Linked DNA regions of Homo sapiens. The protein of the gene in region 3 purifies or fractionates together with the protein of the main gene of each other region. This does not show direct contact. Each region holds a gene or a part of one and is shown on either strand. Other genes may lie near its edges. The genes, in order: APPL1, AP2A2, CLTA, LSM1, SORT1, SH3D19 and NSDHL.

Region 1 (3,500 bases), on a different chromosome or scaffold from region 3:
TAGATAGCCTCTGTATTTAATATTAAATCATTAAAATTATCTGAACATAAGTGCTATCATGAAATTTCAATGGCATATTCTGTGAATTCAAGAAAACTTAAGGATTCTTGTTGAAAGTCTATCTATACAGATACTATACTTTTAAAATTATGCTTTTAAAACTTTGATATACAATACCTGTTTTTCATATTCTTTTAAAAGTTTTGAGGTCAGGTGTGTTGCTGCACTTAATTCATTCTATGGAAAAAGCATTCAAATTAGCATATTACTGGGAAAAAAGTTTTAGTTTTTTCTAATTAAATACCTAATTTATTTATTATCACTTAACATAAATATTGTACATGTTTTTTAAAACCTTCATTAAATCACTGGAAAGGGGTACTACCATTAAAGCACTTTAAAAGAAAACTCAAACCATAAAATAGACACTCTCCAGGAATTCAGCAGTGTTCCTGGTGTTTGTTTTTTGCTAATAAAAACTAAGCACTAAATACTTTAAAGCCTAGAAATAAACTGATATAACCTTAGCAAAATCTTTAGAGCATCTACGTTGATGACTGATTATTGCCCTCTGTAGATGCTGATACTAGACTACAGTAAGCACTTAATAACATACAACCAAAATGTGGTTGACCCAGTCATATAACATAGCAACACAGCCATATGAAAAACTTTAATTTAGTTTTTTTGGTGAATATAACAAAGAGAACATTTCTTTAACATATTAATCATATATCTCTGTAGTCAGAAAGCAAAGCTTCAGAGCCTGATCACAAGGAAAAACTAAACAACAACATAGCAACTCTTAAGTACATAATGAAAATGTGAAGCCAGAAAGCAAACAATATGAGAAGGGAAAAAAATAAAACTTGTACGCTTAATTAATCCCAAAGAAAGTATATTACAGAACCTAGGTTGCTGTTTAAGCTTATAATTAAGTTATCCAAACATAGCTTCAAATTTTATTGCTGGTCAATAAGAAAACTTAGTCATACCCTTCATCTTCTTGTACTCCAGAGGTACATCTAATTTTTAGTGCCTTCTTTTAACTAGACAGAGGCAGCCAACTTTCAAATCCTCCACTGAAAAAGGGAAAGTGTTGGCCAGGTGCAGTGGCTCACGCCTGTAATCCCAGCACTTTGGGAGGCCGAGGCGGGCAGATCACCTGAGGTCAGGAGTTCGAGACCAGCCTGGCCAACATGGTGAAACCCTGCCTCTACTAAAAATACAAAATTATCTGGGCGTAGTAGTGCATGCCTGTAGTTCCAGCTACTCAGGAGGCTGAGTCAGAAGAATTGCTTGAACCTGGGAGGTGGAGGGTGCAGTGAGCTGAGATTGCACCATTGCACTCCAGCCTGGGAGACATTAGCAAAACTCCATCTCCAAAAAAAAAAAAAAGGGGGCTGGGTACAATCTCAGCACTTTGGGAGGCCAAGGCGGGCGGATCACCTGAGGTCGGGAGTTCGAGACCAGCCTGACCAACATGGAGAAACCCTGTCTCTACTAAAAATACAAAATTAGCCAGGCGTGCTGGTGCATGCCTGTAATCCCAGCTACTTGAGAGGCTGAGGCAGGAGACTCACTTGAACCTGGGGTGTGGAGGTTGTGGTGACCCAAGATCACACTACTGCACTCCAGCCTGGGCAACAAGGGCAAAGCTCCATCTCAAAAAAAAAAAAAAAAAGTGGGGGTGGGGAAGTGCTCCATAAGATTGTAATAAGCATGATTAGGGAAAATACCAGTGATGACATGGGGTCTTCATTCAAATCTTAGGAAAGATCACTATCAGTGAGTTTAATGGGGGGTTCCCCCCAAACTATGTTTGGGGAGAATGGGCAGATGCTTCAATCGTCTATCACTTTTGTAGTACTACAAACTGTACACTAGTAGTTGAAATGTCAGTTCTGTAATACACTCAATGTTCATTAATCCATTCAACAAATATTTATTACTATGAGCCTAACACAGGGCTAAAGCAGTGGTAAACAAGACAGACACTATCTGTCCTCATGAGGCTTAAAGATTCGTGTTTTAAAAGCATCAAGTTAGTCCTTAGTGTTTTACCTGTGCATCATAAATCCGATGCATAGCTTGATACAACTGGTTCATATAGTTGGAAATAGCTGTGGCATCTTCTTCAAATACACCTAGTAAAGACCTTGTCTGTATAAAACAATAGCAATAAGTTTATGTTAATCATTATACAAATCAGATGGAAAAATATTTTTTCTAAAGGAAGCAAAAATCGTAGGATATTAAAGTTCTAGTAATTCTGAGTTTTAATCTATTTTGTCTCTTTTGATAGTAATGTTAAGAAGTCTTTTTTTTTTGTTCTTAGTTTCACTTCAACAAAGCAGAGGTATTTTCCAACTATGTCACACAAACTTTAGGAGAAACAACAGAGGTATATTTTCATAAACTAAAAATTCTATAAACTAAGAACAAATCAACAGAAACGTTCAAAGCTAAATTAACAGCATTCCATGTAGTATAAATATTTTAAATGTCTTACTTCAGGATAATTTAGTATGATTATTTCTTCTACAGTTTTTGCTAGAAGAGGCCAAACCCCTTCCTGTCCTAATCTAAAAATACCACAGTACACCCTCCCCAACATGGCCGACTCTTCAGCATATAAAATGCTAACTAGGTTTTTCCGAATGCACAATTTGGGGGTTTTCCTTTCTTCTTCTTTATACATGTCTATATTGTTTGGCTTTTGTTTTGTTTTGTCATTTTTCTACCATGCACATTTAAAAATTATCTTCATTTTAGGCCGAGCACAGTAGTTCATGCCTGTAATCTCAGCACTTTGGGAGGCCGAGGCAGGCAGATCATGAGGTCAGGAGATTGAGACCATCCTGGTTAACACAGTGAAACCCCGTTTCTACTAAAAATGCAAAAAATTAGCCGGGTGTGGTGGCACGTGCCTGTAGTCACAGCTACTCAGGAGGCTGAGGCAAGAGAATAGCTTGAACTTGGGAGGTGAAGGTTGCAGTGAGCCGAGATCACGCCACTGCACTTCAGCCTGGGCGGGCGACAAAGCAAGACTCTGTCTCAAAATAAAAAAATTTTTTTAAATTATCTTTATTTTAAGGGGGAAAGCTTATAAGTAAATGTTAAGAATGTCAGGCCGGGTGCGGTGGCTCACGCCTGTAATCCCAGCACTTTGGGAGGCCGAGGCGGGTGGATCACGAGGTCAGGAGATTGAGACCATCCTGGCTAACACGGTGAAACCCCATCTCTACTAAAAATACAAAAAAATTATCCAGGCATGGTGGCGGGCCCCTGCAGTCCCAGCTACTCAGGAGGCTGAGGCAGGAGAATGGCGTGAACCTGGGAGGCGGAGCTTGCAGTGAGCCGAGATCATGCCACCGCACTCCAGCTTGGGCAATAGAGGGAGACTCCGTCTCAAAAAAAAAAAAAAAAAAAGAATGTCAATAAAAATTTGTCAAAGATAAGGAAACTAAGGCTATCAAAGGCAAGGTAGACATACTCAC
Region 2 (3,436 bases), on a different chromosome or scaffold from region 3:
CCTGGGATCTGCAGTTGGGCAGGGCTGCCCCCAGCAGGGTCTGGGCTGGTAAGAGAAGCTGCCTCTGGCTTTGGGCCCCTGCCCTCCCTCCATTAGGACTGTTCCGTCTCTGGCGAAGCCCACCGTCCTCCGGGGGCCACCCCCATCTGCCCGAGAGCCCCTTCTGCACCATCTGTGGTAGGATCAACTGGAGGATCCCCACGGGGCCTCCCGTTCCCCAGGAAGGAGCCCTGGGCTGCACCTCAACACACTGTACAGTGGGGAGCCCTGCGGCCAGGCTGGAGGGGTTCCCGCATGACCTGAGTCCCAAAAAGCTCCACCACACACCCAGAATCAAACCGGCGGAGCAAAGGGCAGGTCACTTTCTGATGCCCGCTGCCCGTGAGCCCACTGCTGAAGGACAGGTCGGGGACCTTGGGGTCTGTGCCTCACGCGACCCCCGGGGAGCTATGAGGGTTACATGGGATGCTTTCCCCCCAAAGAAAGCGCGTGATCCGGGGTGCAGTTCTAGCCTTTATTTTTCTTTGACGAGGAGTGCCACACTGAGGGCCCCTCTGCAGCGCCGCACAGGGAAGCGGTGCCTCGGGGAGCAGCCTTTCCTCTGATGGCGGGAGGGGTCAAGGGATGCAGGAGATCCACGGCAGCACACGCAGCCTGCAGGCGCAGCACACAGGCAGAGCACTGCCCAGCAGCTGGAACATGAGAATGAGGGCCACACCACCCAGCTGCAGCACAAGCCCAGCACGGCGTGTCACGGCACCTGGCACCACCAGACCCAGAATGGCCTGTGCGAGAGGCGCACGCCACTGACGTGGCTATGCTGTGATCAAAGCCCGACACGCCGGAAGAAGAGCCGCAGACATTGTGGGGTGCACACACTGCAGGGGAGCTGTGGAGACCCTGATGGGTCCATGAGCCCCTGCAGCTGCCCCAGGGACCCGCACAGCAGGCAACTGAGGGCCAGGGTGAAAACCCTCAAGCACATGTGGCCACCCACCCTCCCTGCCTCCACAGCATGTCAGGAAGCCAGAACCTGTGCTGGGTGTGTTTAGGACAAACAAGGCCACCATCCTGGGGACAGAGCGCAAGGCCCCAGCCTTGGCTCCTAGGCCGGCCCCACTCTCTCGCCTCTCAGGTGTCAGACGTGCAGCCTGGGTGCTGAGTCCAGATGACAGGTGAGACACAAGCCGCAGGTGGCACATGGCATGCGGCCAATGGCCCCTTCACTTCCTGACCACACAGAGGCGTCCCTCCTCCACAGCCCCTCCAGGGACGACTGGACGGGGCCGGTGGAAGGACTCAGGCCTGCACCGTGGCCTGGGGACGCCCACTCTGACAGGAAAGAGACGAGCACACCTCTGAGTCTTGCGCCACCGGCCCACACTTTACCCTGGAGTCCTGGGGGCCCTGCGGGGCCGGCAGGACGCTCCTCCCCTGGCTGCACATCCAAGGCCTCGGCGACTGCAGGAGCATAACAGACGCCCTTCACAAACAGGAGCTGGGAAAGGAGAACAGTTACATCCGGCCAGGACACGTGCTTTTGCCAGAAGTCATTACAAATACAAATGTTTCTAAATTCTAGATTAAAATCCTGCCTGGGAAAACAGTCCAGCTGGGACTGCAGCAAAACCAGGGTCAGCTGTGCTCCTCCCAAGGGCCCAGGACGACGCCAGGTGTGCAGCCACCAGGACGGCCACACACCAAGGCTCAGCCCACGCCATGCACAGTGGCACTGCTGCTCCCAGAGGCTCCGAGGCGGGGTGGGCGGCAGCACGGGCCATCTCAGTGACACTCCCACAAACGCCACGTTCACGCCAACTTCTAATTTCCCTTTAATTTGTAGATTTAACCACAGAACTGTCTCGATTTTTATAAAAATTGATCCCAAGATCCACCTTCTGCCGTGGCTGCCACAGTCCAGGCTGAGCTTTTCCTCCTGAGCCACACACGTGTGTTCCCGTCCAGCCCAAAGGGGAGAGGTGTGGGGCGGCGGGGCGGGGAGGCGCCTTGTGCTGTGGCACTGGACACGGTGCTCATCTGCAGGATGGCCACGAAGACAAACGGCACAGACGAAGACAACACAAGACACACGAGCCTGGTCTTCCATCCTCAGGACTAAAACTGCGCTGAGAGCAATTCACATAATCTCTGAGAAACGGCTTCCTTACTTGTGCGCAGCGTGAGCCGGTACATCTGAAACAGAGAGCACAGCAGGTCAACGGGCACGCCGAGGCTCACACAGCCCTCGGGTCCAGGATCCGCCATGCAGAACCCTGTGGGCCATGCCCAGGGACCACTCTCTGGAGGCACCCACAACTCGGCAGAGGCCTGAGCACCACACACACTGTCAGCATGAAAACTGAGGGCTGGCATGGGAGCGCCTGGCGTCTCGTACGTAGCTGGCGGGAGTGCAAAGTGGCACGGCCACCTGGAGAAGCTGTGGGATGTTCTTGCAGCACTAACCACACACAGGCCCTGGGCGACAGCAGCACTCCTGGGTGCCACCCAAGTGAAACGGAGACAGGTGTCCGTCGCCAGAACGGGACGTGGTGAGAAGGAACAACGCGGTGACAGAGAGGAACAGCTGGGAGAGCCACCGCCCAGGGCCAGGCTGCTCCATGGTGGGACGATGCTCCACGGTGGCCAGCTGTGGGGAGGCTGGGATGCAACCATGTATTGACAGGGTGGTGGTTAAACAGGCACACAACATCTGTCACAACTGACTGAACTGCACTAGGGATGATGCTCCACGGTGGCCAGCTGCGGGGAGGCTGGGAGGCAACCATGTATTGACAGGGTGGTGGTTAAACAACATCTGTCAAAACTGACTGAACTGCACTAAAGAGCTACACATCTCACCACGTACATTGTGCCAGAATAAAAAGCAACTCAAGTGTGTTCCACCATTTCCTGAGGGCCTGACCTGGGCTTGCAGGTTCGGCTCCAAGCGCAGCAGGCATCCAATCTGGGTGGTTTTCGTGTGGATGATTCCAGCTCCCACGAAATTCGCAGGATTAGGATCAACTTCTTCAAGAAGTGCAGAACCAAATCCAATGATCTGTCCAAAGAAACAGGAGAATGAGGACCCTGGCGCGGGGTCGCGGGCAGCGTGTCCCCCGGGGCCGCCCCTCCAGACCCTGGCGCTGGGTCGTGGGCTGCGTGTCCCCCGGGGCCGCCCCTCCAGACCCTGGCGCTGGGTCGCGGGCTGCGTGTCCCCCGGGGCCGTCCCTCCAGACCCTGGCGCGGGGTCATGGGCTGCGTGTTCCCCGGGGCCGTCCCTCCAGACCCTGGCGCGGGGTCACGGGCTGCGTGTCCCCCGGGGCCGTCCCTCCAGACGTGTTACCTTGGCTTTGGTGACTTCTGTGTCCATTGGGTGCTTTGCTTTGAAGATGTTCTGCACTTCCTGCTGTGGACTGTGAGAAACAGCAAAGGCGAG
Region 3 (3,500 bases):
TGTAATGGTGTGATTCAGCCAAGGGAAAAGTTACTTTCCATGGAACCCTGAAACGAAAGCTGGGTGTCATGAATACACCCAGATCTAGTTACTTTGGATATGATTATAGACTTGGTCATGTTGAGTCTCCTCAATATAGCCCTGCCCCCTGAAAGCCACTTCATGAAGGGGTCCGTTGGCAGGAATATGTGCTTTGTAATTAGGCAGCCAAGGATGTTCCAACATGATTATTTTAGAATTGAGGGTTCTGTGGGTACTTATTTGTGCCTTAAAAAGTCTTGAATTGACTTCTTAAAAATGTTCTGTTTGAAATAGATTTTATTTAGTTACTGATGGTTAAGGAGTTGTGAGGAGAAAAACGCTTTCATTCTCATATCACTACTCACCAGCAGCTGGGCTTTAATGCCCTACACTTAGAGCCCTTCTTGGAAGCAGCAAAGAGAGGATATGTGGTGTTGCTTCCCTCAGGGCAGGCAGGTTCAGAGCCCAACTTTCACTGAATAGTCAATCCATTCACTTCAGTGTATAAACGGGCCAGACCGAGCCTGGGGATATTTTTAATTTTCAGGGTAGAGCCTTGGGTTCTCGTATGCAGAGGCAGGAAGCAGGTTGGGTTAAGTGCCCTTGTCTCTGGCAGCTCTGTTAGACAGAGATGTGGCAGGAGAGAGAGCTAACGGCTTTGCCAGCCAGCCAGTGCTATTGTGGGTCCAGTATGACAGAGCAGTTGGACTCTCTTTTATATGCTAGCAGCCCTTCAGCTCATTGGATTCCGGCTTGAGCCTGTGTCCTGGTCACTTTCCTCTGGGGGCGGTGTGCTCAAGGAGTGCCTGTCAGGTTCCATGTGGAGTCCACAGGACTCCACAGTCCCAGTCCCACAGGACTGCTCTCTGGTGTGCAGGCTGGGTTGCCAGTGGTGATGGCTTCCATCAGCTACGTGGGGCTGTTGTTGAGCCTGTGGTCAGTAGGTGGTGCTGACAGGTCCAGGCTCCTGTGTCCTCTGCTCCCTCAAGATGATTTTCTCCCAGGTGGAAGTTCAGATCGGTAAAGCCGAGTGGGGACTGTGTGCAAGCACCCTGCGAGCCCTGAGAACTCCCCCAGCCTGCGACCCCAGCATTTAAGTTTAGTCTGAAGTACTGTAGCTGTGCCGACCCTCCCCGCTCTGGGTCTGTGATGCGTCAATAACTTAACACAAGTTTTCAAACTTAGATAATGAATATGTTGGTAACAGCCTTTCTGTTGCAGAAATTTTTTTCAAGGAAGTTTTGCTGAACTGTCAAGAAAGGGATATTCTCTGTATACAGAATCCGTTGTTCTCAGAGGGAGTAATGACACCTGTTTTTTTTTTTTTTTTTTTTTTGAGATGGAGTCTTGCTCTGTTGCCCAGGCTGGAGTGCGGTGGTGCGATCTCGGCTCACTGCAAGCTCCACCTCCTGGATTCACGCCATTCTCCTGCCTCAGCCTCCCGAGTAGCTGGGACTACAGGTGCCCGCCACCATGCCCAGCTAATTTTTTTCTGTTTTTAGTAGAAACAAGGTTTCACTGTGTTAGCCAGGATGGTCTCGATCTCCTGACCTCGTGATCTGCCTTCCTTGGCCTCCCAAAGTGCTGGGATTACAGGCGTGAGCCACCGCGCCTGGCCATGACACCTGTTTTTAGGAGCTCAGTCTTAAAAGTTTAGTCCCTCCAGGCATTGAATTTGGGCCTTGGTACCTTTCTGTACTTGGAACTGTAGAATGCTGGGTAAGCTGGTCTCACAGATGAACCTCTTAAGTTCCAGAGAGAAGGAACTTCCCCACTGCTCACTGAGAATGTAGAGCTGCTTAGGAAGCAGGTCACTTGCCTTGTGGGAACCTTGCAGCACAGGGCTGACTCTTGAGAGCATAACGCTAGTGGCACACTAGCCATTGTCACCAGGGCTCTAGGACAGAAGAGATGGTTTTTACAGTTTATTCCAGTGATTCTTCACTGGTTGGAGGTGGGATCCATTTGAGAGTCACTTTGGGGGACTTCTTCCAAGGGTCTACACCCTCCCCTGGAGATTTTTATATTGCTGACTACTCCCCCTCTCCATCCATGTTTGACTCTAAACTTTAGAGTTCAAAGGAATAGGTCCCATTTAGATGTATAAAGTAATTCATCCTTGTTATCTGTCTATGGGTAAAGAGTGAATATTTTTAGAAAAGAAAATGGGGGCCGGACACCGTGACTCAACATCTGTAATTCCAGCACATTGGGAGGCTGAGGCGGGCAGATCACTTGAGGTCAGGAGTTTGAGACCAGCCTGCCCAACATGGTGAAACCCCATCTCTACTAAAAATGCGAAAATTAACTGGGTGTGGTGGTGTGTGCCTGTAATCCCAGCAACTCGGGAGTCTGAGGCAGGAGAATCACTAGAACCCGGGAGGCAGAGGTTGCAGTGAGCTGAGATTGCGCCACTGCACTCCAGCCTGGGCAACAGAGCGAGACTCAGTCTGAAAAAAAGAAAAGAAAAAAGAAAACGGGGTGCTCATTTCAAGCAAGTATGATTCTCTCTGGGTGACTTCTGCAGTAGCTAGATGTTAAGGGGACCCGAGAGATAAGGCAGAAAGATGAGAAGTTTGAAAGAGGAAAGTCGGAGACAGGAAGGGCATCCAGTTAATTGTGAGAGCATCCTCAGGCCTCCTGCCTTCCAGCTGCCTCACCACTGGGTCACCAAAGCACTAGGAGCACGTCGCGCCTGGCACTGCACTGGGGGTGGGTGTGCTGTACTCTATTGTCAGTCCCCAGACTGCATCTCCCTTCTTTTATCCCAAGTTGAGGCCTAAGTGTCACAGTACAAGAGCTGTGAATTATTCAGTGACAGCCATGGAAAAGAATTTCCTTTTCATAGCCAGCCAGCCAGAGCAGTGACTGACTCCTGCAGCTGGATGAGTTTGCTCATCAAGAACAACCCCAGAACATTTCCCCTATTACAGGTAGCACTTGTGCTTGTCAGCTCTTTCAAGGCTTGAGAAGGTTTGGGGAACCCACAGTTCTCAGAGATGGCAAACATTTTTTTCTGTGCCCACTTTGAGGCTGTTTATGGAATGAAGTTCTGCATTGTATTCGTGCCTCCAGAGCTTGTCCTAGGTCAGGTATTCCTCTTCCCTCCCCTCTCCTAAGCCTCCCTGAGCCCCTTCCTGCCTTGGCTGAGGATTGCTACTTTCAAGTGAAGGACAAATAAGGGGAGGGCCACCTGTGTGTGTGTCTGATTTTCTGTTTGTTCTGGGCCTGCAACCTTGACAGGGGATGTGCTTGTCACTGAGGAGCTCTTTGGTCTTGGGCTAGCTGCAAAGGAGCAAGAGCCTGACATTCAAACTTTTGTTGTCTTAGTGATGATTTGACAGGAGTCATGAAACCTCTACTCTTCTTGTGGAGGGAAACCCAAGTTGAAATCGATCAGGTTTAGTCCTTTGTGTAAACTAAAAGGGTTATGGGTTTATAAGCCAGCCTGCCTTGCCTTTTCCTCCCACTCATTCTGC
Region 4 (3,655 bases), on a different chromosome or scaffold from region 3:
TAAGGACAATAAACTGAATCTATGGACAGTGAGATACTTTTTTAGCAAGGTTCTTCTGCATTATGACATTGGTTAGCAAATGTTTATAAGGGCCAGGCACAGTGGCTCACACTTTGGGAGGCCAAGGCAAGAGGATGCTTGAGGCCAGAAGTTTGAGACCAGCCTGGGCAACATAGCAAGACCCCATCTCTACAAAAAGAAAAAAGATTTAATGCCAGATGTGGTGGCACATGCCTGTAGTTCCAGCTACTTAGGAGGCTGAGGCAGGAGGATCACTTCAGCCCAAGAGTTTCAGATCATGGTGAGCTGTGATTGTGCCACTGCACTCCACCCTGGGCAACAGAGCAAGATCCTGTCTCTAAAAAAATGAAAAATGTGCTCACATTGGCAGCACATCTACTAAAATTGGAACAACACAGAGAAGATTAGCACGGCCCCTGCTTAAGGATGACACGCAAATTCATGAAGTCTTCTATATCTTTAAAAATAATTAATGAAAAATGTTTATAAAACATTCAAAAATAAAAATATTAAGCATACTATGCCACATTTAAGTGAAAAAACGAATTAAAGTCAGTATTTGCATTGTGGGTTTTTGGGAGGGGTTTGTTTTTGAGGCAGCGTCTCACTTTGTTATCTAGGCTGACTGCAGTGGTGTGATCACAGCTCACTGCAGCCTCAAACTCCTGGGCTCAAGTGATCCTCCCCCCTCAGCCTCATGAGTAGCTGGGACTATAGGTACACGTTACCACGCCCAGCTAATTTTTTATTTTTTACTTTTTTTTTTTTTTCCTTTTGAGACAGAGTCTTACTCTGTCGCCCAGGCTAGAGTGCAGTGGTGTGATCTTGGCTCACTGCAACCTCTGCCTCCTGGATTCAAGTGATTCTCGTGCCTCAGCTTCCCGAGTAGCTGGGATTACAAGTGTGAGCCACCACACCTGGCTGGGTTGTTTATTTTTTTTAAGTCAGTATATATGTAGAAAAATTGTAGGGATATTATCAAAATGTTAATCCTCCATACTGGAATTATGGATAATTTTTAAATTTTCCTTGTTTGTCTATTTTCCATATTATCTACGATGAGTGTGTATTTTTTAAATAAGGAATTTTTTATTAGGCAACAATTTTTTGTTTTTTTTTGAGATGGAGTTTTACTCTTGTCACCCAGGCTAGAGTGCAATGGCGTGATCTCCGCTCACTGCAACCTCCGCCTCCCAGGTTCAAGTGCTTCTCCTGCCTCAGCCTCCCAAGTAGCTGGGATTACAGGCACCTGCCACCACGCCCAGCTAATTTTTTTTGTATTTTTAGTAGAGACGGGGGTTTTGCCATGTTGGCCAGGCTGGTCTCGAACTCCTGGCCTCAAGTGATCTGCCCGCCTCGGCTTCCCAGTGTGCTGGGATTACAAGCGTGAGCCACCATGCCCAACCTAAGCAGCAATTTTTTAAATAGTGGAGAAAAATATTGGGACCAAATTGGTTTAGTAACCTAAATGGTCTGCCGAGGTTCTCCCTAGAAGACTTGTTGCCGTAAAGGGAAAAAGAGTCTTGTTACAGTTTAGATCTAGACTACAGAGCTGGTACGGTGGCGCACACCTGTAGCCCCAGCTACGTAGGAGGTAAAGGCAAGAGGATCCCTTTTTATTTTTGTCTTTTTACTTTTTTTGAGACGGTCTTGCTGTTGCAGAGGCTGGAGTGCAGTGACACATTCATGGCTCACTGCAGCCTTGAACTTCAACCTCCCAGGCTCAAGCAGTCCTTCCACCTCAGCCTCCTGAGTAGCTGGAACTGTAGGTGAACACCACCACACCAGCTTTTTTTTGTTTTGTTTTTTGGTGGAGTTAGTTAGGGTCTCACTGTGTTGCCCAGGCTGGTCTCGAACTCCTAGGCCCAAGTGATCCTCCCACCTCAGCCTCCCAAAGTGCTGGGATTACGACTGTGAGCCACTCCACCCGTCCTTAAAATAATTAAAAAAAAAAAAAAGTCTAAGGCCACATTGCCTCAATAACCTCCCTCTTGGATTCTCTGCAGTGGGGGAGATAGCTGTCTATAAGCAGCCCTAATTTTTTTTTTTAAGGAAATTAATCGTGGACTAATAGAAAATTAATCCTGACTAATATGGGATTTTGGATCACATAAAGCTCTGTTATACAAATACTTATTACTGCCTATAATCCCAGCACTTTGAGAGGCCAAGGCAGGCAGATCATGAGGTCAGGTTTCGAGACCAGCCTGACCAACGTGGTGAAACCCTGTCTCTACTTAAAATACAAAAATTAGCCAGGCGTGGTGGCACGTGCCTGTAATCACAGCTACTCAGGAGGCTGAGGCAGGATAATCGCTTGAACCCAGGAGGTAGAGGTTGCAGTGAGCTCAGATTGCGCCACTGCACTTCAGCCTGGGTGACAGAGAGACTCCATCTTGAAAAATATATACATATACTGATCACTATTAACCTCATTGTAAGTATGTATCCTATAGTAGTGTTGTCAGGCATTTCTTTGAAAAACTTACCGGTCCCTAGGAGAAGGATATTTCAGTTCCTGTCACAGTTATGAAAAATAATCTGAGCCTGATAGAGGAATCCATTTGCCTTGAGATCTGTGCTTTCTATTCTTGGTCTTCAGGTGAAGTTTTCAAACCTGTCTCTTTTGTAGGACTTGGAAAAGGAGAGTGACACACCCCTCCAGCAAGTATCCATTGAAGAAATTCTAGAAGAACAAAGGGTGGAACAGCAGACCAAGCTGGAAGCAGAGAAGTTGAAAGTGCAGGCCCTGAAGGACCGAGGTCTTTCCATTCCTCGAGCAGATACTCTTGATGAGTACTAATCTTTTGCCCAGAGGCTGTTGGCTCTTGAAGAGTAGGGGCTGTCACTGAGTGAAAGTGACATCCTGGCCACCTCACGCATTTGATCACAGACTGTAGAGTTTTGAAAAGTCACTTTTATTTTTAATTATTTTACATATGCAACATGAAGAAATCGTGTAGGTGGGTTTTTTTTTTAATAACAAAATCACTGTTTAAAGAAACAGTGGCATAGACTCCTTCACACATCACTGTGGCACCAGCAACTACTTCTTTATATTGTTCTTCATATCCCAAATTAGAGTTTACAGGGACAGTCTTCATTTACTTGTAAATAAAATATGAATCTCAAAAGTGTCATGTTATTTCCAAGTTTGAGTTACCTGTAATGAATAGATTAATAGATTAATTAAGTTTCTGCTCTCAAAGGTATAAGCAGTCCACATACTGGGATTTCCCCCTTCAGTCACAGTTTCAAGTAGCTGGCTACTTAGGAAGGAATATTTTTATTCCAGTCATCTCAGGGGTCCTCTCCTGTTTCCATGTTTGTATCTGTTAAGAAATACAAATGTTCGGCAGGGGCGGTGGCTCATGCCTGTAATCCCAGCACTTTGGGATGCCGAGGCGGGTAGATCACCTGAGGTCGGGAGTTGAAGACCATCCTGACCAACATGGAGAAACCCTGTCTCTACTAAAAATACAAAATTACCAGGGCGTGGTGGCGCATGCTGTAATCCCAGCTACTTGAGAGGCTGAGGCAGGAGAATCACTTGAACCTGGAAGGCAGAGGTTGCGGAGAGCCAAGATTGCACCATTGCACTCCAGCCTGGGCAATGAGCGAAACTCCGTCTCAA
Region 5 (3,500 bases), on a different chromosome or scaffold from region 3:
AGAACTGAAGGGCCACGACCTGGAGTTTTGTCTGTACGGAAGAGAAGAACACCTAACAACAAATGGGTGAGGTGGCCTTTTCTCCCTTGTCACGATGGATGAGGTGTTCTTGTTCAGAGTGAAAGCTGCTTCTCTCCACACTGAGATCCAAGCCCTACTTTAGAGCACTATTTTTGGCGGGGTTGGGGAGGGGCAGGATATGAAGGCCTCCTTCAAGGGTCAACTACAGGAGGTGAGCCATGAGTGCTTGGTGTCAGAGGACTCAACCCCACCAACACCACGAGGCAGAGCAGGAGAACAAGCTCGGCCAGATCCTGCACCCCTGCCTCCCGCCCAACCACCCCCAGGAAGGGAGGAGAGGCGAGGGACCCACAGGCAGAATGACAGAAGCGTCCCATCCGCCATGAACGTCCATCGCTCGTCTGGCACAGTTTAGGCACAGCCAGGGAGAGCTCTGTCTGATAGGACTTTCTTTGGTGATGGAAGTGTTCTGTAATTTGCTGTGCCCAATATGATAGTCACTAGCCACACATAGCTGTGGACACTAGTGTAACCGAGGAACTGAAATTTTCGTTTTAATCAATTTTAAGTAGCCACCATATTGGACAGTGCTGCTCTAGACGGGCCTCATTACCTCGCTCCCCTGATAACTTCCCCTCTCCCATTTTGTACCACTTGTTAATGAGCTTTTTTGGGGTCAGATTTCTTTGGCACAGTCTCTTAGGTAGAAAGAACAGGCATGTTTCTGACAGCAGGGGACAGAGATGCTTAGTTTGCTTAAGGCCTGAAACTACACAAAATATCCCCCAAAACATCCCTGTGGACATTCCCCCCAGGCCTGAAACATGACGTAAGGATGGGAAGCTTTTCGGCAGCTTTTCAAATCTTGTTTCCAAGAAATAGGCAGGTACCCAGGAATACATCCTTATCTTCTGTTACCAAATCTTCTTTGCCTGGTAGGTACCGGAAAATTCCAGGGGACAAATGCCAGGGTGGGGTAAATCCAGTTCGAGAAGTAAAAGACTTGAAAAAGAAATGCACAAGCAACTTTTTGAGTCCGGAAAAACAGGTATGTTAAAATAGGTCTAGTTTTCAGGTACAAATGGGATTTTGTGTTCTGCTAAGAAAAATCAAAGTTAAAGCATCAAGAGTTTTGTTACTGATAAAAAGTGGTCAAACTACTTCTCTCAGGCTTCCCTTATACAGGAAGCTGTTAGCATGAAGGATGGGTCATGTAACCCAGTGATAAGCTCACCCTACTGAAAGCTCTTTTCTTATTGAGGGTTGGGGGATGATATTCTGTAAAGTTGTAAAATTCTTAAAATCATACAGTTGTGGAAATTTCTGAGGCTGAGAGTCATTTAGGAAAACAAAAAGGTTGTCTGTGGGCTGGGTACAGTGGCTCACACCTGTAATCCCAGCACTTTGGAAGTCCAAGGCAGGCAGATCACTGAGGTCAGGAGTTCAAGACCAGGCTGTCCAACATGGTGAAACCCTGTCTCTGCTAAAAATACAAAAATTAAAATTACAAAAATTAGCTGGGTGTGGTGGTTTACGCCTGTAGTCCCAGTTACTCGGGAGGCTGAGGTAGGAGAATCATGTGAACCTGGGAGGTGGAGGTTGCAGTGAGCCGAGATCGTGCTGCTACACTCCAACCTGGGCAACAGAGCAAGACTCCGTACCAAAAAAAAAAGGTTGTCTGTGAAGGGCCATGACCTGGAATTGTGCATGTGTGGAAGAGAAGAGCACTGGGCAATAGGTAGGGTGGATCTCTGACCAAGTCATGTTAAGTATGTTCAAAGTGAAAAATTGAGCTATGGTAATGGGCTGGTTTTGATTTAAATGAAGCAAGTTACCTGTCGGGCATGGTGGCTTACTCCTGTATAGTCCCAGCACTTTGGGAGGCTGAGGTGGGGAGATCAGTTGAGGCTATGAATTGGAGAGCAGCCTGGGCAACATGGAGAAACTCCATCTTTACAAAAAAAATACAAAAATTAGCCGGATGTGGTGGTGTGTGCCTGTAGTCCCAGCTACTCAGGAGGCTGAAGGGAGAGAATCACCTGAGCCTGGGAGGTCAAGGCTGCAGTGAGCCATGATCATATCACTGCACTCCAGCCTGGGTGACAGAGTGAGATCCTGTCTCAATTTAAAAAAAAAAAAAAAAAAAAAAGGTTATGAGGCTGCATCCAAATCTGTAGCACTGAACTACCTGTGGAACTGGAGATGTGTAAAGAGGAAACCTCTTGATAATGAAACACTAGACCAGCAGCATGACTTCAGATGCTCAACAGCAGGCCCGTTTCCCAATTCGTAATAGGAGAGGTCAAGCTGGATCACCTGCAGTCCCTCCTCTCTGCTGTTCTAAGGGATGAGGGACTGACAAGGGGTGGGATTAAGGAGATGATGGGAGAGGAGTGTGTGAGTGTGTGTATTGGTAAGGGGGCGAGTTCCTCCTTCTGTGCACCCTTGTCCTGGGCTCCTGGTGACTCTCCTCAGAGTGTTCGTGTGTGTGATTGCACAGGACTCCCACCCACAGGGACACAGCTTGTCCTAGAATCCAGCTCTGCCTCCTCTGGGATACATTGAAAACACACACTCCCTATTTCCCACCCAGAAGCAGGTAGGTCACATGCAAACAGTGATATGATAAGGCTTATTTATAATAATATATAAAAAATTAAGTAAACAAATAAATCTTGGTGTCATATAATGGCCTGCCTGGTTCTTCTGACACAGCTTCTTCCCAGATAATGGCCCTGTTCTAGAGTCATTCAGCCTACTGTTACAGTAGTCTCCCTTTCCTACTCCACCCTTAAGCCCCAAGACTTGTGAACAGTGGTAGTGTGAAGCAATCATACTTGATCTAGGCAGTTGCCCAGGCTTCCAGTGTAACTTTGACATTTAAACCACAGAATTTGAAGGTTCAAGGCAGTTGGAGCTAAGATGACTCTCTGCCAGCTATAATATTCTCCTGGTAACACTGAGATGGTTCATCTTGGGGGGTTGGAAAAGAGCCATCATTAAGCGCATCAGGACTGCAGATCATTCACAAAGAGATGAGGGGAATGAGTGGCTGCCTTGACCTCAGTCCTAGGATATGCATGCCTAAAACTTTTGTGTTTGTGTTTTAATTTCTCAAGAATTCCAAGTCAAATTCTGTTCCAATTATCCTGGCCATCGTGGGATTGATGCTGGTCACAGTCGTAGCAGGAGTGCTCATTGTGAAGAAATATGTCTGTGGGGGAAGGTAAGGAACACAGAAGTCAATCCAAGGTACTGAGTTCAAGCCAGAAGGCTGATCTAGGGCATATGGCTGAGTCTACTCTTGGCAAAAACTAGGTACTTGCAGTACTGTTCCTGAAAAATCAGGCCCAAATCTTCTCATGTCGTACATTTTTCATATGTCAACCATGGACTGTGCTTTCTGTGTCTGTGATGCGTTCCTGAGTGTATAAAACTGAGAAAGTCCACAGTCCTGTAAGAAGTGCACCCCTGCTGTG
Region 6 (3,500 bases), on a different chromosome or scaffold from region 3:
TCTTTATAAAATGTATTTATGTTTCCCAGCTTTTAAAGTAATAAAATATCTTCAGCATGATTCTAAAATAAATAAAAAGCTCAGTTGAATTTTTTTTTTTTTTTTGGCAGAATTATAGGCAATCAAGTACTGAGGTCAATTCAGGAAAGGTTTTTTTTTTTTTTTTTTTTTTTTAGGCAGAGTCTTGCTCTGTCGCCCAGGCTGGAGTCTAGTGGCGTGGTCATGGCTCACTGCAACCTTCACCTCCCAGGTTCAAGTGATTCTCATGCCTCAGCCTACAGAGTGGCTGGGATTACAAGTGTGCACCACCATGCCTGGCTAATTTTTCTATTTTTAGTGGAGACGGGGTTTCACCATGTTGGCCAGGGTGATCTCGAACTCCTCCCACCTCAGCCTCCCAAAGTGCTGGAATTACAGGTGTGAGCCACTGCACCTGGCCAGTGAGGGTTAATTCTGTAGTAGCTCATGATGCATGAGATTAATAAGCAGTTATAGGAAAGTAAATGGGGAGCAGAGAGTATTCCATTGTTTGGGTTTCATGTGCTGAGGCTAAGGTGTCGTAAATCTGGCACTATGTGAAATATTTACTGTTGATGGTGGTATCCAAGATCCTTAATTGCCTGACCTGACAGAGAGTGGTAATATGAAAGCTAGACACAACACCTGAATTCTTGGGGGTGTCTCACTAATCCACCAAATGCCCATTACAAACAAGGAAGAGAGGATGTGGGTACACTAATCCAGTGGTTCTCAAACTTTTGCCACATGTATCTGAATTGCCTGAAGGCCTTGTACACGCTCAGTATCTGATCACTTGGTCTGGGATAGGGCCTGATAATTTTCATTTTTGACACATTCCCAGATAACATTTATGTTGCTGGTTCAAAAGGATGATGCACTTTGCAAACTCCATGTAATTAAGAGAGAAATCACACCCCAACACAGATTGTTAAATTCTAAGAAATAGTTCCTTTGGCTAATTTGTCCTTTTTAGTAGATCAGATGAAAACCCATGAGATAAACATGGAGATTTCCACAGGCTAACTTATAGGACTTAGTTTCCATTGTGGGTTTTCTCGGTAGCTTAAAGGATTTCATGGTTGATTTATACAGCCTGGCATTTATGATCAACTTCATTTTTGTTTCTTGGTTTTTTTCTTTCTGTTATTGATTGCATATTCTTCATCTCTATCTGCACAACTGAGATTGGTGTGTTAGTGCCACTGTGTTAGTGTTAGTTAGTGCTAGCCAAGGGCAAGAAGTGGAGGGTGGGGGGAATAGGCGGACGAGATTGGGTGACCAACTCTTCCCAGTTTCCCAGGACTTTTCCAGCTTTTAAAACTGAAAGTCCCCCATTCATGGAAACTCCTCAGTCCCAGGCAAATCAAGGATAGTCACCCTAGAGGAAGGATAGCTTGGGTGGGGGAAGAAGGGAGGATAAAGGCTACTGATAATGTTATTTATACTAACATCCCTGCTTTAGTCCAGGTGCTTTTTTCACTCAACATTAAGTTTGTAAGATTTATTTGTATTGTTACATGTAGCTGTGGGTTTTTGTTTGTTTTGAGACAGAGTCTTGCTCTGTTGCCCAGGCTGGAGTGCTGTGGTGTAATCTCAGCACACTGCAACCTCTGCCTCCCAGATTCAAGTGATTTCTCCTGCCTCAGCCTCCCAAGTAGATGGGACTACAGGTGCATGCCACCATGCCCAGCTAATTTTTGTATTTTTAGTAGAGGCGGGGTTTTGCCATGTTGCCCAGGCTGGTCTTGAACTCCTGACCTCAGGTGACCCGCCTGCCTTGGCCTCCCAAAGTGCTGGAATTACAGGCGTGAGCCACTGTGCCCGGTTCTGTTTTTTTTGTTTGTTTGTTTTCATTGTATAAATATATACCACAGCATTTTGCCTATTATTTTTTATTGATTTATTGGAGTTCTTTGTTTACCCAGGAATCTCAACTTTTGTTGGTTATGTGTGTTACAAATATCTTCTTCCACCTCCACTCTGGCTTACTTTTTCATTTTCTCTATGGTTTCTTTCGATGTGGAAATTCTTCATTTCAGTATAGATGAATTTATGAATCTTTTCCTTTATAATTTGTGTCTCTTCCCCCCTCACCCCCTTTAAGAACATGATTTCTATCCAAGGTCATGAAAATATTCTCCTATATTTCCTTTATTGTCCCCTAAAAGCTTTGTAGCTTTCCTTGGGGAGAAATGCCATAGCTTTCATCAGATTCTCAAACAGATTTGAGAATCTCTGCCTGACATACAACATTTTAATATTATTTCTCCAAAGGGAGGATATACAAGATTCTGGATCCTCCTCCCAACATCTGGAAGAGTAGTAGGCACATAATAGGGCTTACTAAATGCTAACTAAATTTACTCTTTCTATATTTTGATGTGTTTATGGTAAACCCTGGAAGGACTGATATAACTGTTGTCTGTTGTGCTTTGAGTAAAATAACTTTAATATCATCAGTATGAGGGCACAGAAGAACATTCACTGTGTTCACGGTGTACCAGGTGCTTCTTTATGTTATCACCTGTGAGGTAGGTATTATTTTCTTCATTTTATCATTGAAAAGACTGAGGCTCACAAACATTTAAGCAACTTATCCACAGTCCCTCAGCTAGTAAATACTGGAATGGTGATTTGAATGCAGGTTTTTTTTGAAGTGGAAGTCCATGTTTTTCCAGGTGATCACACTGACTGCTCATATAAGTCAGTTACTATTGATGCTCCACGCATTTATACCTGTATGCTGCTTGCTGTATTCTAGAAGTACTTTACATTTATGTGGTGCTTTTCTATTTATGAAGGGCTTTCACAACTGCATTCATTTGGATTCTTACAACAAACTGAGAGGGAAGAGGGTAAGTTTTTTGTTCCCATTTTAAAGATGAGTAAACTGAGACTCAGAAATGTTAGAAGGTTTTATCTAAAATTACACAACTAGGTATAGCTGAACCTCAGTCACCTCTATTGTGTGTTGCAAGTTGTAGAGGTTTTTTTAGTTGATTCATATAAGATGTCAGGTCATATCCTCTCAGAGTCTGTGGCTTTGTCTACTAAGTTAGATAGTTTTGAAAACTGCATTAGTTCTCTGGACCACCAGCTTACTGTTTTTTGTTATTAGAATTCCAAAGTTGTCTAATTTATTTTGAGAAAGTTATTTTAAGTTCCATGGAAACTATGAGTAGATTTACATGTTGTTTAAAAATCCTGTACTCATCACATTGTTTAAGAAGACCTGGGCCAGGTACAGTGGCTTACGCCTGTAATCCCAGCACTTTGGGAGGCCAATGCGGGTGGACTACCTGAGGTCAGGAGTTCGAGACCAGCCTGGCCAACATGATGATACCCCATATCTACCAAAAATACAAAAAATTAGCCAGATGTGGTGGTGGGCACCTGTAATCCCAGCTACTCGGGAGCCTGAGGCAGGAGAATCGCTTGCTAGGGAGGTGGATGTTGCAGTGAACTGAGATCACACCACT
Region 7 (3,500 bases), on a different chromosome or scaffold from region 3:
CATGTTGGCCAGGCTGGTCTCGAACCCCTGACCTCAGGTGATCTACCCACCTTGGCCTCCCAAAATGCTGGGATTACAGGCATGAGCCACCGTGCCTGGCCCCTATTCTTAACACTGTCTCCAAGAGGTTGATCTTATAACTCACCTCAGTAACCCATTATGGAGTCTTGCTGTTTCCAGTCTTGAGTTTTATACTTGATTGTTAGTACATGTTCATTCTTGTCCACTGTGGCTGTGAGAAGTAAAAAGTGGTCATGAAAAGTTTCATGTGATCTCCTGTAATCACACAGCATTATAGGTATGATTATCACACATTTGACTTCCCTGGGGTAAAGGCCAGTTTGATTCCCATCACTACAAGGGTCTCCAGGGAACAGCCATTGGCCTACTCATCCCAAACATTATTGATAGAACATTTCAATATCATAAAATAATCCACGTCACATTGTCCAAGAGTAGCGTACTGATTAGTCACAATTAAAATCGTGAAATGAAATCACACTGGACTAACAGCAAGGTTGTTTTTTGAAGAGATTAGCAACCTTTTGAAACACCTGTAACTAGAGATGCCAAATGAAATAAACAAGGCAGTCTGAAATCTTTCAGGATGCTTTAGTAACATATCTAGTTCTGACTGTCTTTGGGCTTAGCCAGACTTTTAGTAAACTGCAGAAATCCAGGTTGGGAAACAGGCAGCTCAGAGTTATTCTAAATAGCTACAGTTTGCCTGTACAGCTGACTTGGGAGGAGGGGAGAAGAAAGGGATTGCTAGAAAAGGGATTGATGTGAGTTTTGTATTTAATTTGGCTATGACTTGAGGAAATATACATCTCAGTCCAGGTGCAAATCATGTAACCTGGTATGATTACATGTGTTTAGGAATAATCAGAATAAAGCCTAGAAAAGAACAGGTTGGGAAGTTAGTTTTGGGTGGTAGAAGAATGGTGAGGCTGATTTTGTTAGTAGATTGCACATGGACAGATGAAGGTAAAGTACAGTGCCAGCTCCAGCTGGGCCTGGTGGAATCCAGTATGAGTGCTGTTTCAGATGGGACACCCCAACTGGGAGGGAGGTGGATCTAGAGAGGATGTCTGGCCCTGGCATCCCTTGAGTCTCTTGCATAGCTCAATTGTGTTGATGTTTAAGGAATAAGTAGGGAGATTTGTTTGTTTTTTAAATCTAGAACATAATTTCTTTAAGATCTTTCATTTCCACAAACCCAAGTTGGATTTACTGTATATGAGCTAAGGAAATTGGAGGTTGTCATCTTAAGGAGGCCCAGATACAGTTTTAGAAAGACCCTAGGGAGGAGGGATATCACAGGTCCTCCTCACAGACACCCATAGCCAGCTTGTCTGGTGTGCAGCAGCCACAGTTTGGCATCAACATCCTGAAATGAGGGTATTTAAGTGCCTGCATGTGCTACTGTGTCCTTTCATTATGCCCAGTCACCAGAGTTGGAATTACCCAAGGAATCGTGTGTGTTGTGGAGGCTGAGACATAAACACCATGGCTCTCCCCATTTCTTCAACTTCCTTGTAGTTCGGAGGAGGGAAAGCAGAGCCCTGGGCTCATCCATCCTCACTGCAGCCCCACCAGGAGATCCCATCAAGGCGGTCTTAGATTTCTAGGCTGAGGCAAGAAGGGGTTGGGCGATGAGCCCAGAGCCACACAGCCCAGCCCTGTTGTGGCCAGAGAGGGAAAGGGACTGACTTTGTCCTGCAAGTATGGAGACTGCTTTCTTCTTTCTGTTGTTTTCAGTGCAAGCTATCAGCTACCAAATGGCTGCCGTTTTGTTTTGTTTTGTTTTGTCCTTAGAGAAGCGCCCAGGGATCAGCTATCGGGAACAAGAAGGTATCACTGTTTTTTGGGGTATTTTTTAGATTGTCCAGTTTTGGTCATAGGTGGTTTGATTTCCTTTCACTGAATACAAAGCATGGATCTTGTCATCAAACCCAACCAAAGTCAATCTCAGTGTCATTCGCTATCTCTCTTCCCTCCTTACTGATCCCAGGAGAGAAGGTTAGGGTTGCACTAGTGATGGAACACCAGGATGATATAAAGCTTCCAACTTGGCTCAAGAAGAGTTCCAAACAAACAAGTATATCTGCCATTGCAGTGGCTCATGATATGTAAGTCTGGACTCTGTAGCTTCCAGTCCTCACTACCCTGGTCTTCCCCACCGTTCCTCTCTTTCCACAGGCCAAGAGATGCACAGTGATCGGTGGCTCTGGATTCCTGGGGCAGCACATGGTGGAGCAGTTGCTGGCAAGAGGATATGCTGTCAATGTATTTGATATCCAGCAAGGGTTTGATAATCCCCAGGTGCGGTTCTTTCTGGGTGACCTCTGCAGCCGACAGGTAATGGACCATGCAGCCTTGCTGATTTCCCACGAGCCCACGAAGGGAAACCACGATACTTCCCTTGCTCAGAAGCCAGCCAATTTGTTTGAAAAACAATTGTTTCATTGTGAAAATTTTCAAAGTTATAGGAAAGAACACCACATTCTTACTGCTTAGAATGAATAACCATCATCTCTGTCACAGATACTCAGCTGTGTCCTGGTAGCACAAAAGCAGCCATGGTCAGCACTTAAATGAACAAATGGCTGTGGCTGTATGCCAGTGAAACTTGACTTCAAAAGCCGTCCATGGGCTGTATTGTTCCAACTGCAAAACAAGTGTGTGCTGGGCCACAGGGTCTTGATTTTTTAATTGAGATATAATTCATGTACCACAAATTTCACATTTTTAAAGTGTGCAATTCAGTGATTTTCAGTACATCCACAAAGCTGTGCAACTGTCTCCCATGATCTAACTCCAGAATATTTGTATTACCCCAAAATGAAATCTTGTAGCCATCCCCTCTCTTCCCCTCCCAGCCCCTGGCCGCCACTCATCTACTTCCCATCTATGGATTGGCCTCTTCTGGACATTTCATATAAATGGAATCATGTAATATTTGTACCTCTGTGCCTGACTTTTTTCACTTAGCATGATGTTTTCAAGCTTCATCCATGTTGTACAGGTATGAATATCTTGAATTTTATTAGATGGTGCCAAATGGCTCAGCAAAGCTGCTATGTCAATTTTACCTCCATATCCACAATGTGGCACAAGCCCCATTGCTTCACATCTTTGCCAACACTGGGCATAACTAGACTTTTTGGTGTTGCCATTCTGAGAAGTATGAAGTGGTGCTTCACTGATGTTCAGAGTCACATGTCCTCCCTGACCAAGTAACCAGCCACTCTGCCACTGGGTGATCGGCTTTCAGGCTTCCTCCTGTGTGAAATGTTTGTCTGTGTCCTTTGCCCCTTTGTCTTTGGGGTTACCTTTGCTTCCTTGTTGATCTAGTTGGGATGCCAATCCTGTGCCCGTTGTACTTATTATGGATGGCTTCCCTCAGCCTGTCACTGGGCCCTTATTCTTGGCTTTGGTGTCATTCGCTATATGGTTTGTTGATGAAATATTAAGGCCATTGCTTCCGCTGCAAAGTT

The links.
Region 1: the proteins of CLTA (region 3) and APPL1 purify together in Homo sapiens (affinity purification with mass spectrometry, with the first as the bait; one large-scale study listed by BioGRID). This does not show direct contact.
Region 2: the proteins of CLTA (region 3) and AP2A2 purify together in Homo sapiens (affinity purification with mass spectrometry; one large-scale study listed by BioGRID and IntAct). This does not show direct contact.
Region 4: the proteins of CLTA (region 3) and LSM1 purify together in Homo sapiens (affinity purification with mass spectrometry; one large-scale study listed by BioGRID and IntAct). This does not show direct contact.
Region 5: the proteins of CLTA (region 3) and SORT1 purify together in Homo sapiens (affinity purification with mass spectrometry; one large-scale study listed by BioGRID and IntAct). This does not show direct contact.
Region 6: the proteins of CLTA (region 3) and SH3D19 purify together in Homo sapiens (affinity purification with mass spectrometry; one large-scale study listed by BioGRID and IntAct). This does not show direct contact.
Region 7: the proteins of CLTA (region 3) and NSDHL purify together in Homo sapiens (affinity purification with mass spectrometry; one large-scale study listed by BioGRID and IntAct). This does not show direct contact.

Annotation. Positions count from the first base shown.
Region 1 is NC_000003.12:57,234,229-57,237,728, reverse strand, and holds part of APPL1 (DCC-interacting protein 13-alpha), read right to left. Parts: intron 2,164-3,500; coding exon 2,065-2,163; intron 238-2,064; coding exon 178-237; intron 1-177. UniProt on the Homo sapiens protein: Multifunctional adapter protein that binds to various membrane receptors, nuclear factors and signaling proteins to regulate many processes, such as cell proliferation, immune response, endosomal trafficking and cell metabolism.
Region 2 is NC_000011.10:1,009,305-1,012,740, reverse strand, and holds the end of AP2A2 (AP-2 complex subunit alpha-2), read right to left. Parts: intron 3,414-3,436; coding exon 3,344-3,413; intron 3,059-3,343; coding exon 2,924-3,058; intron 2,194-2,923; coding exon 2,116-2,193; 3' UTR 501-2,115; downstream 1-500. UniProt on the Homo sapiens protein: Component of the adaptor protein complex 2 (AP-2). Adaptor protein complexes function in protein transport via transport vesicles in different membrane traffic pathways.
Region 3 is NC_000009.12:36,204,421-36,207,920, forward strand, and holds part of CLTA (clathrin light chain A), read left to right. Parts: intron 1-300; exon of another isoform or gene 301-3,500. UniProt on the Homo sapiens protein: Clathrin is the major protein of the polyhedral coat of coated pits and vesicles.
Region 4 is NC_000008.11:38,162,839-38,166,493, reverse strand, and holds the end of LSM1 (U6 snRNA-associated Sm-like protein LSm1), read left to right. Parts: intron 1-2,653; coding exon 2,654-2,824; 3' UTR 2,825-3,155; downstream 3,156-3,655. UniProt on the Homo sapiens protein: Plays a role in the degradation of histone mRNAs, the only eukaryotic mRNAs that are not polyadenylated. Probably also part of an LSm subunits-containing complex involved in the general process of mRNA degradation.
Region 5 is NC_000001.11:109,314,419-109,317,918, reverse strand, and holds part of SORT1 (sortilin isoform 1 preproprotein), read left to right. Parts: coding exon 1-66; intron 67-960; coding exon 961-1,069; intron 1,070-3,140; coding exon 3,141-3,247; intron 3,248-3,500.
Region 6 is NC_000004.12:151,319,106-151,322,605, reverse strand, and holds part of SH3D19 (SH3 domain-containing protein 19), read left to right. Parts: intron 1-3,500. UniProt on the Homo sapiens protein: May play a role in regulating A disintegrin and metalloproteases (ADAMs) in the signaling of EGFR-ligand shedding. May be involved in suppression of Ras-induced cellular transformation and Ras-mediated activation of ELK1.
Region 7 is NC_000023.11:152,848,063-152,851,562, forward strand, and holds part of NSDHL (sterol-4-alpha-carboxylate 3-dehydrogenase, decarboxylating), read left to right. Parts: intron 1-2,202; coding exon 2,203-2,361; intron 2,362-3,500. UniProt on the Homo sapiens protein: Catalyzes the NAD(P)(+)-dependent oxidative decarboxylation of the C4 methyl groups of 4-alpha-carboxysterols in post-squalene cholesterol biosynthesis. Also plays a role in the regulation of the endocytic trafficking of EGFR.